Linked DNA regions of Homo sapiens: region 1 is linked to region 2. Evidence: fine-mapped expression QTL. A gene starts in region 2. The other region holds a variant in brackets. All regions are shown on one strand. Distances are from middle to middle. Region 1 has its middle 41 kb from the start of WIPI2. Region 2 holds the start of WIPI2 (WD repeat domain, phosphoinositide interacting 2).

Evidence for each region. PIP is the estimated chance that this variant, and not a neighbour inherited with it, causes the effect.
Region 1: its variant is fine-mapped to the expression of WIPI2 in whole blood (INTERVAL, PIP above 0.99). The same link has a PIP of 0.9 or more in monocytes.

What each region holds. Positions count from the first base shown.
Region 1 is chr7:5,147,294-5,151,680 of GRCh38, forward strand. No RefSeq gene overlaps it. Among named protein-coding and RNA genes, the nearest start is that of WIPI2, 41 kb to the right of the region's middle. The variant C/T (reference allele first, on the strand shown) is at 2,284.
Region 2 is chr7:5,187,631-5,191,964 of GRCh38, forward strand. It overlaps WIPI2 (WD repeat domain, phosphoinositide interacting 2), which reads left to right and starts at 2,603. Exons shown (of 13, transcript NM_015610.4): 1 at 2,603-2,863. The coding sequence starts at 2,790. RefSeq lists silencers at 2,388-3,037, 3,048-3,097.

The DNA of each region.
Region 1 (4,387 bases), 40 kb before region 2:
AGGGATCCTCCCATCTTAGCCTCCCCAAGTGCTGGGATTAAAGGCATAAGACGCCACACCCAGCCGCCCAGCTGGCTTTTCCTTTTGTTTCTACAAAAATATTTTGTCTCTTTGTAAAAGGTTTTGTATCTGGTTTCCTGGATCAAGTTTGGACATCAGTAATTGGAGTCCTTTGCACATTCAACTACATAGATTTCTAACTTGTGGTAGATTCTACCTGTGGTTTCTACCGTGTGGTTCTAGAGAGAATTATCAACACTAGGCCGGGCGCAGTGGCTCATGCCTGTAATCCCAGCACTTTAGGAGGCCGAGGCAGGCAGATCACGAGGACAGGAGTTCGAGATCATCATGGCTAACATGGTGAAACCCTGGCTCTACTAAAAATACACAAAATTAGCCAGGTGTGATGGTGTAGGCCTGTAATCCCAGCTGCTCAGGAGGCTGAGGCAGGAGAATTGCGTGAACCCAGCAGACAAAGGTTGCAGGGAGCCGAGATAGCACCATTGCACTCCAGCCCTGAGCCCACAGTGTGTGACTCCATCTCAAAAAAACAAAACAAAACAAAAAGAAAACAAATAAACAGTAGAAATCATCTCCATAAAAATGATTCATTTACAAATCTTGTGGGTGGAGACTCTTTTCAGAATAATCCTTTTGGGGCCAGGCACAGTGGCTCACACCTGTAAACCCAGCACTTTGGAAGGCCAAGGTGGGTGGATCACCTGAGGTCAGGAGTTTCAGACCAGCCTGACCAACATTGCGAAACCCCGTCTCTACTAAAAATACAAAAATTAGCCAGCAGCTCACGCCTGTAATCCTAGCACTTTGGGAGGCCAAGATGGGCGGATCACCTGAGGTCGGGAGTTTGAGACCAGCCTGACCAACAGGGCAAAACCCCGTCTCTACTAAATATACAAAAAAAATTAACCACGTGTGGTGGCGCATGCCTGTAATCCCAGCTACTCGGGAGGCTGAGGCAGGAGAATCATTTGAACCCAGGAGGCGGAGGTTGCAGTGAGCCAAGATTGCACCACTGCACTCCAGCCTGAGCAACAAGAACGAAACTTCATCTCAAAAATAAAAATAAAAAAATAAAAACATTAGCTGGGCGTGGTGGTGGGCCCTGTAATCCCAGCTACTCAGGAGGCTGAGTCAGGAGAATTGTTTGAAAGAGAATCACTTGAATCCAGGAGGCAGAGGTTGCAGTAAGCCGAGATTTCGCCACAGCACTCCAGCCTGGGCGACAGAGCAAGACTCTGTCTCAAAAAAAAAAAAAAAAAAAAAAAAATTATATATATGCATATAAAAGAATAATCCTTTTGGGGTTTTACGTCATTTGTTCCTTTCTTCCTCTTTAGGTCATTTTGGTTATACATATTTTCTTCCAGATTGTCCTTTAATCAGGACATGTTTTTAACTCAGATATTTGTTATGCCTATTACTTTTTCAAGATTTCTCTACAAATTTGTATTTTAGATCAGTGGGGAAAAAATACACTATGTAGACCCTCAAACACCATGGGTTTGAACTTCGAAGGTCCACTTATATGCAGGTTTTTTTTTCTTCAACCAAACACAAATAGAAAATACAGTATTTGAGGGATGTGAAACTCAAATAAATACAAGCCCAACTTTTCATATACACAGTTCCGCAAGGCCAACTGTGGGATTTGAGTATGGCAGATTTGGGTATGAGGGTGATATGGTTTGGGTCTGTGTCCCCGCCCAAATTTCATGTTAAATTATAATCCCCGGCTGGCCGCGCTGGCTCACACCTGTAATCCCAGCACTTTGGGAGGCCGAGGCAGGTGGATCACCTGAGGTCAGGAGTTCGAGACCACCCTGGCCAACATGATGAAACTCCGTCTCTACTAAAAAAACAAAGATTAGCCGGACATGGTGGTACATGCCTGTAATCCAAGCTACTTGGGAGGCTGAGGCAGGAGAACTGCTTGAAGCCGGGAGGCAGAGGCTGCAGTGAGCTGAGATTGCACCACTGCACTCCAGCCTGGGCAACAAAGCAAGACTCCATCTCAGGAAAAAAAAAAAAAAAAAAAATTATAATCCCCAGTGTTGGAGGTGGGTCTGGTGGGAGGCGATTGGATCATGGGGGTAGGTTTCCCCTTTCGTGCTGTACTCGTGAGAGTGAGTGACTTATCATGAGAGCTGGTTGTTTAAAAGTGTGCAGCACCTCCCGTCTTTCTCTCTCTTCCTCCTGCTCTGGCCATGTAAGACATTCCTGCTTCCCCTTTGCCTTCCGCCATGACTGTCAGTTTCCTGAGGC[C/T]TCCCCAGCCACGCTTCCTGTACAGGCTGCAGAACTGTGAGTCAATTAGACCTCTTTTCTTTATAAATTACCCAGTCTCAGGTAGTTCTTCATAGCAGTATGAGAATGAACTAATACAAAGGGGTTGTGTCCTGGAACCAATCCCCTCCAAATATGAAGGGCTGACTTTATTTTATTATGGTACAAAGGCTAGTACAGTGGCTCCCACCTGTAATCCCAGCACTTTGGGAGGCCAAGGTAGGAGGATCGCGTGAACCTGGGAGCTTGAGGCTGCAGTGAGCTATGATCACACCACTGCACTCCAACCTGACCAGCAGAGCGAGACCCTGTCTCAAAAAAAAAAAAAGTAATAATAGGCTGGGGGAGGGGGCTCATGCCTGTAATCCCAGCACTTTGAGAGGCCAAGGCGGGCGGACCACAAGGTCAGGAGTTCAAGACCAGCCTGGCCAACATGGTGAAACCCTGTCTCTACTAAAATACAAAAATTAGCTGGGTGTGGTGGCAGGCATCTGTAATCCCAGCTACTAGGAAAGCTGAGGCAGGAGAATTGCTTGAACCCAGGAGGCAGAGTTTGCAGTAAGGAGAGACAGCGCCACTGCACTCTAGCTTGGGCAACAAATTGAGACTCCCTCTCAAAAAAAAAAAAAAGAAAAGAAAAAGTAATAATAAATGGTTGAAAATGTTTTCCTTCCCAATAAATTCATGGTTGCTATGAAACAGTAGCAAAAAAAATTAAATTCCTATATCTATTTTTAGAGAGTTTTCCAATAATTTCTCTTTTATATTGATTAGTGTCACCAGAGATTTGTCTATCACTTGTTTATTTTTCCAAAGATAAAATCTTTATTATTTTTCCTATCTTCCCTAGTAAGAGAGAAAATAAAACTCTTACAGCTATCATCTTCTAATATCAAGATAACATGAAAACTCCTGTAAAATGAATGGGAAGGGGAATATTCCAACTCTAATTACAAAATGAGAGCTAAGAACGTATGCAACTATATTATTTAGGACATGGATAAAACTGCTGTAATAGAGCTCCCAAAATAAAAGTGCTCTAAAAATTACTGATAAAGCCGAACGTGGTGGCTCATATCTGTAATCCCAGCATTTTGGAAGGCTGAGGTGGGTGGATCACTTGAGGCCAGGAGTTCAAGACCAGCCTGGGCAACATGGTGAAACCCTGTCTCTACTAAAAAATACAAAAATTTGTCGGAAGTAGTGGCTCATGCCTGTAATCCAGCACTTTGGGAGGCCGAGGCAGGTGGATCCTGAGGTCAAGAGATCAAGACCACCCTGGCCAACACGGTGAAACCCCGTCTCTACTAAAAATGCAAAAATTAGCTGGGTGTGGTGGTGCGCACCTGTAGTCCCAGCTATTCAGGAGGCTGAGACAGGAGAATCGCTTGAACCCAGGAGGCAGAGGTTGCAGTGAGCCAAGATCACACCACTGCACTCCAGCCTGGCAAGAGAGCAAGACTCTGTCTCCAAAAAAAAAAAAAAAAAAATTTGCCAGGTGTGGTGGTGCACACCTGTCTGTAGTGCTAGCTACTTGGGAGGCTGAGGCAGAAGGATTGCTCGAACTCAGAAGGTGGAAGTTGCAGTGAGCCAAGATCATGCCACTAATCCACAGCCTGGGCAACAGAGTGAGACTATCTCAAAAAAAAAAAAAAATCACCAATGATTATTTCTCATTAAAAAAATCCATGTGACTCCGAAGGAGTCAGAAAACTAGACTCCTAAATGAGTGCTCTAGCTGGGCTTGGTGGTTCACACCTGTAATTCCAGCACTTTGGGAGCCTACGGTGGGAGGATCGATTGAGCCCAGTTCAAGACCAGCCTGGGCAACATGGCAAGACATCATCTCTAAAAAACTTTTTTTTTCTCACGCCTGTAATCCCAGCACTTTGGGAGGCCAAGACGGGTGGATCACGAGGTCAGGAGATCGAGACAATCCTGGCTAACACGGTGAAACCCCGTCTCTACTAAAAATACAAAAAATTAGCCGGGTGTGTTGGCAGGCGCCTGTAGTCCCAGCTACTCGGGACAATGGCGTGAATCCAAGAGGCGGAGCTTGCAGTGAGCCAAGATCGCGCCCCTGCAC
Region 2 (4,334 bases):
TTTTATTGAAAAGACCATCCTTTCCTCAATGATTTCCAATGCGTTCTTGACCCTATAATTAGAATTAACTTCTGTAAGCACTCATTAGATCGTTCCACTTTCCTGCCTGTCTTTAACGGCAGACCATTGCTCTTATGGACAATAATCAGATAATGGTCAGTTCCTTGCGTAACAATACGCAGCTTGATCTGGCCACCTCCTGTCTCTCCTGCCAAATCTTGCCTTGTGTCTGCCTTTCCACTCTGAACATAGAGTTCTTTGGACAGGTCACACCCTCATCCTCAAGCCCTTCCCATATAGAGTGTTTTCATGCCCTTAGACTAGTTACTCAAACTTCAGGTCTCATCTCTTCCAGGAGCCTTCTCAATAGCACAGTCCCTGTCCCTTAAATATAGGTTGTGTGACTTCTATATATGCATTCATGGTCAGGCACAGTGGCTCATGCCTGTAATCCCAGCACTTTGGGAGGCCGAGGCAGGCAGATTACCTGAGGTCGGAAGTTCGAGACCAGCGTGACCAACATGGAGAAATCCCGTCTCCACTAAACATACAAAAATTAACTGGGCGTGATGGTGCACACCTGTAATCCCAGCTACTCGGGAGGCTGAGGCAGGAGAATCACTTGAACCCGGAAGGTGGACGTTGCAGTGAGCCGAGATTGCGCCATCGCACTCCAGCCTGGTCAAGAAGGTGAAATTCCGTCTCAAAAAAAAAAAAAAAAAAAAAAAAAATATATATATATATATATATATATATATATTCGCTCATTGTACCCCCGAGTTTCTAATTATATTTATTTATTTTATTTTTTGAGATGGAGTCTCACTGTGTCGCCCAGGCTGGAGTGCAGTGGCATGATCTCGGCTCACTGCAGCCTTCACCTCCTGGGTTCAAGCAATTCTCCCATCTCAGTCTCCTGAGTAGCTGGGATTACAGGGCCGTGCCACCACAACTGGCTAATATTTTACATTTTTCCTAGAGACAGGGTTTCACCATGTTGGGCAGGCTAGTCTCAAACTCATGACCTCAGGTGATCCACCTGCCTCAGCCTCCCAAAGTGCTGGGGTTACAGGCGTGAGTCACCATGCCCAGCCTATTTTATTTTACTTTTTAGATGGAGTCTCACTCTGTCGTCCGTCCAGGCTGGAGTGCAGAGGTGCAATCTCGGCTCACTGCAACCTCCACCTGTGGGGCTCAAGCAATTCTCCCACCTCAGCCTCCCTAGTAGCTGAGATTACAGGTGCCCACCACCATACCCAGCTAACTTTTGTACTTTTAGTAGAGACGGGGTTTCACCATGTTAGCCAGGCTGGTCTGGAACTCCCGACCTCAGGTGATCCACCCGCCTCAGCCTCCCAAAGTGCTGGGATTACAGGTAAGAGCCACCACACCTGGCCTTCTATTTATATTTAAATATCTCCCCATTATAACTTCTCTGAGGGAAAGGAGGAGGCCTATTTAGTTCACATGAGAGGTGCGTCCTAAATACTGTTGAATGAATGAATAAATTTAAGGGACGATTCTGTCCCAGGAACCCAGACAGTATGGACCTTGGAGAAACAGGACGTTTCCAGTCTCAGATCTAGCACTTGGCTAATAATTATTTCTGAGCCTCGATTTTCAAATCTGTAAAATTAAGATATACTATTCTCTACTTAGGATTGTAATGGGCATCAAATAAGATAATGTGGCTGGGCACAGTGGCTCACATCTGTAATCCCAGTACTTTGGGAGGCCGAGGTGGGAGCATCACTTGAGGCCAGGAGTGCGAGACCAGCCTAGGCAACAGAGTAAGACCCCCCCCGCCCCCACCCCATCTCTACAAAAAACTTAAAAGTTAGCAGGGTGTGGTGGCATGCATTTGTGGTCCCAGCTACTTGGGAGGCTAAGGTGGGAGGATCGCTTGAGCCTGAGTTTGAGGCTGCAGTGAGCTGTGATTGAGCCTCTGCACTCCAGCCTAGGCAACAGAGCGAGACCTTGTCTTTCAAAATAATAAAATGATAAGGTAATGCGCAGAAGCATTCAGCACAGTGATTGGCACATGGAGGGCCCATTGGGGTGTTTTTGTTTTTGTTTTTGTTGTTGTTTGAGACAGAGTCTCGCTCTATGGCCCAGGCTGGATGGATTGCAGTGGCATGATCTCGGCTCACTGCAATCTCCGCCTCCTGGGTTCAAGCGATTATCTTGCCTCAGCCTCCCGAGTAGCTGGGATTACAGGCGTACACCACCAAGCCCGGCTAATTTTTCTTGTATTTTTAGTAGAGACGGGGTTTCACCATGTTGGCCAGGCTGGTCTCGAACTTCTGATCTTAGGTGATCCGCCCGCCTTGGCCTCCCAAAATGCTGGGATTACAGGCCACCGTGCCTGGCCATTGAGTGTTATTAAGAGGAGGGTACGCAGAAAACAGACTCCCGCCAGCTCTGCCCCATGCGCATGAGCGGCCGCCGCTCGCCCTCAGCCAGGCCCAGCGCGCCCCGACGCGTCCCCACGCCTGCGTGATCCACCGGAACCCAAGCCCAGGCAGGCGGTGAGAGGGCGGGGCCTCCGCAGTGCGACTGCGCCGCTCGAGGCCGTGCGTCGCGGGGGCGGGGCCGCGCAGGCGTACCGGGTGCCCCGGCTCTGGAGCATAAACAAGAGCGGGGACGGGATGAGGCGGCGGTTGATCCCAGGGTGGCGAGTGGCGGCGACCGAGGCGGCGAGCGGGGCCCGGCGCCGACCCTGAGTGCAGCCTGACCCGCCCTCGCGCGCGCGCCCTCCCCGGCCGGGCCCACTCGCCGCGCGCCCAGCCATGAACCTGGCGAGCCAGAGCGGGGAGGCCGGCGCCGGCCAGCTGCTCTTCGCCAACTTCAACCAGGACAACACGTAAGGCCGGGGTCGGGGGTCGGAGTCGGGGTGAGGCCAGGGTCGGACCCGGGCTAGGGGGAGGGCCTCGCTGCCAAGCTCGGCGGCGTCGCAGGCTCGGCCTCCCCGCGGGCCAAGGCGCGCAGAGGCGTCCCCAGGGGCGGGCCCGGGGCGTGCAGGGAGGGGCGCCCTCCAGGGAGACCCTCGGGTGCTGGCCTGGAGCTGCGGTCCCGGAGCGGGAGAGGTGGTGGAGAGGGGGCTGCTTTCACCCTCTTGCGGGGAGGCCCCCTGGCTTCAGACTTAACTACTTCTCGCAAAGTTGGGGCCGAACTTTGGGGCTTGACTTGTCTTGGCCGCCTGTGGAGCGCTGGGTGTGGGTCGCTTCCTCTCCTCTCGTCTCCTCTTCCCGCTGCTTGCTCAGCGTCTCCCACTCACTCTCCTTTGAATCAGGCCCTTCTCCTTGTCTTTTCATCGTCTTAAGACCCTTCTCTCTCTCTTGATTTTCTTTTCTTCGTTTCTCACTGTTTTTTTGTTTGTTTTTGTTTTTTGGGGTTTGTTTTGTTTTGAGACAGAGTCTTGCTCTGTTGCCCAGGCTGGAGTGCAGTGGTGCCATCTCAGCTCACTGCAACCTCCGCCTCCTGGGTTCAAGCGATTCTCCTGCCTCAGCCTCCCGAGTAGCTGAGACTACAGGCACGCGCCACTGTGCCCAGCTAACTTTTTTGTATTTGTAGTAGAGACAGGGTTTCACCATGTTGGTCAGGCTGGTCTCAAATTCCTGACCTCAAGTGATCCGCCCACCTCAGCCTCCCAAAGTGCTGGGATTACAGGTGTGAGCCACCGTGCGCGGCCCTCCCTGTTCTTTTTGGGACATCAACTTTGATGTCTTCTCCAGCAAGTAACAAACTTAGCAATAACCTTGGCATCTGACCTAGCTAGGGAGAAACTGAGCCAAGAGAGGCGTTACGGACCAGTGCCCCAGGAGTCTCAGAGCTCCAGCGGGTGGGTCATCCTCAGGGCAAGAGAAGGCCTTAATGCCAGCCCGTGCATTCGGAACGCTGTTTGTCCCCACTGATACGGGTTGGATGCTGCCTGGGAGGAGGACTTGTGGGGATGGTTAATAGATGAGCGAGCTTTCTGGAGAGAGAAGGGTGAGTTATGGGGTTGGCAGGGAGGAGAGCCATCTTGGAAGTGAGTAAGAGGAAGTGAGGAAAGAGAAGGAGTGGGGCATTTGGCATCTTACTAAGTCATTGGTTGAGTTGTTACTGGCTGAGTGGAATTAACATAGCAGAAGGTAAGATTCTTTAGGAAATTAAAAGTGAATTGTAGAATGGACAACACTCAGTGGGTGGTGTACAGCAGGCACTCAATAGCACCTCCCCAAAGCTGTGAAGACAGTCGCACAGTGGGACTGTATTGAGAGTCGGAAGGGGCAAATCACCTCATCCAACTACAGATGAGGAAATCCTTCCGAAAGGCTCCAAGCTGGTCTGGG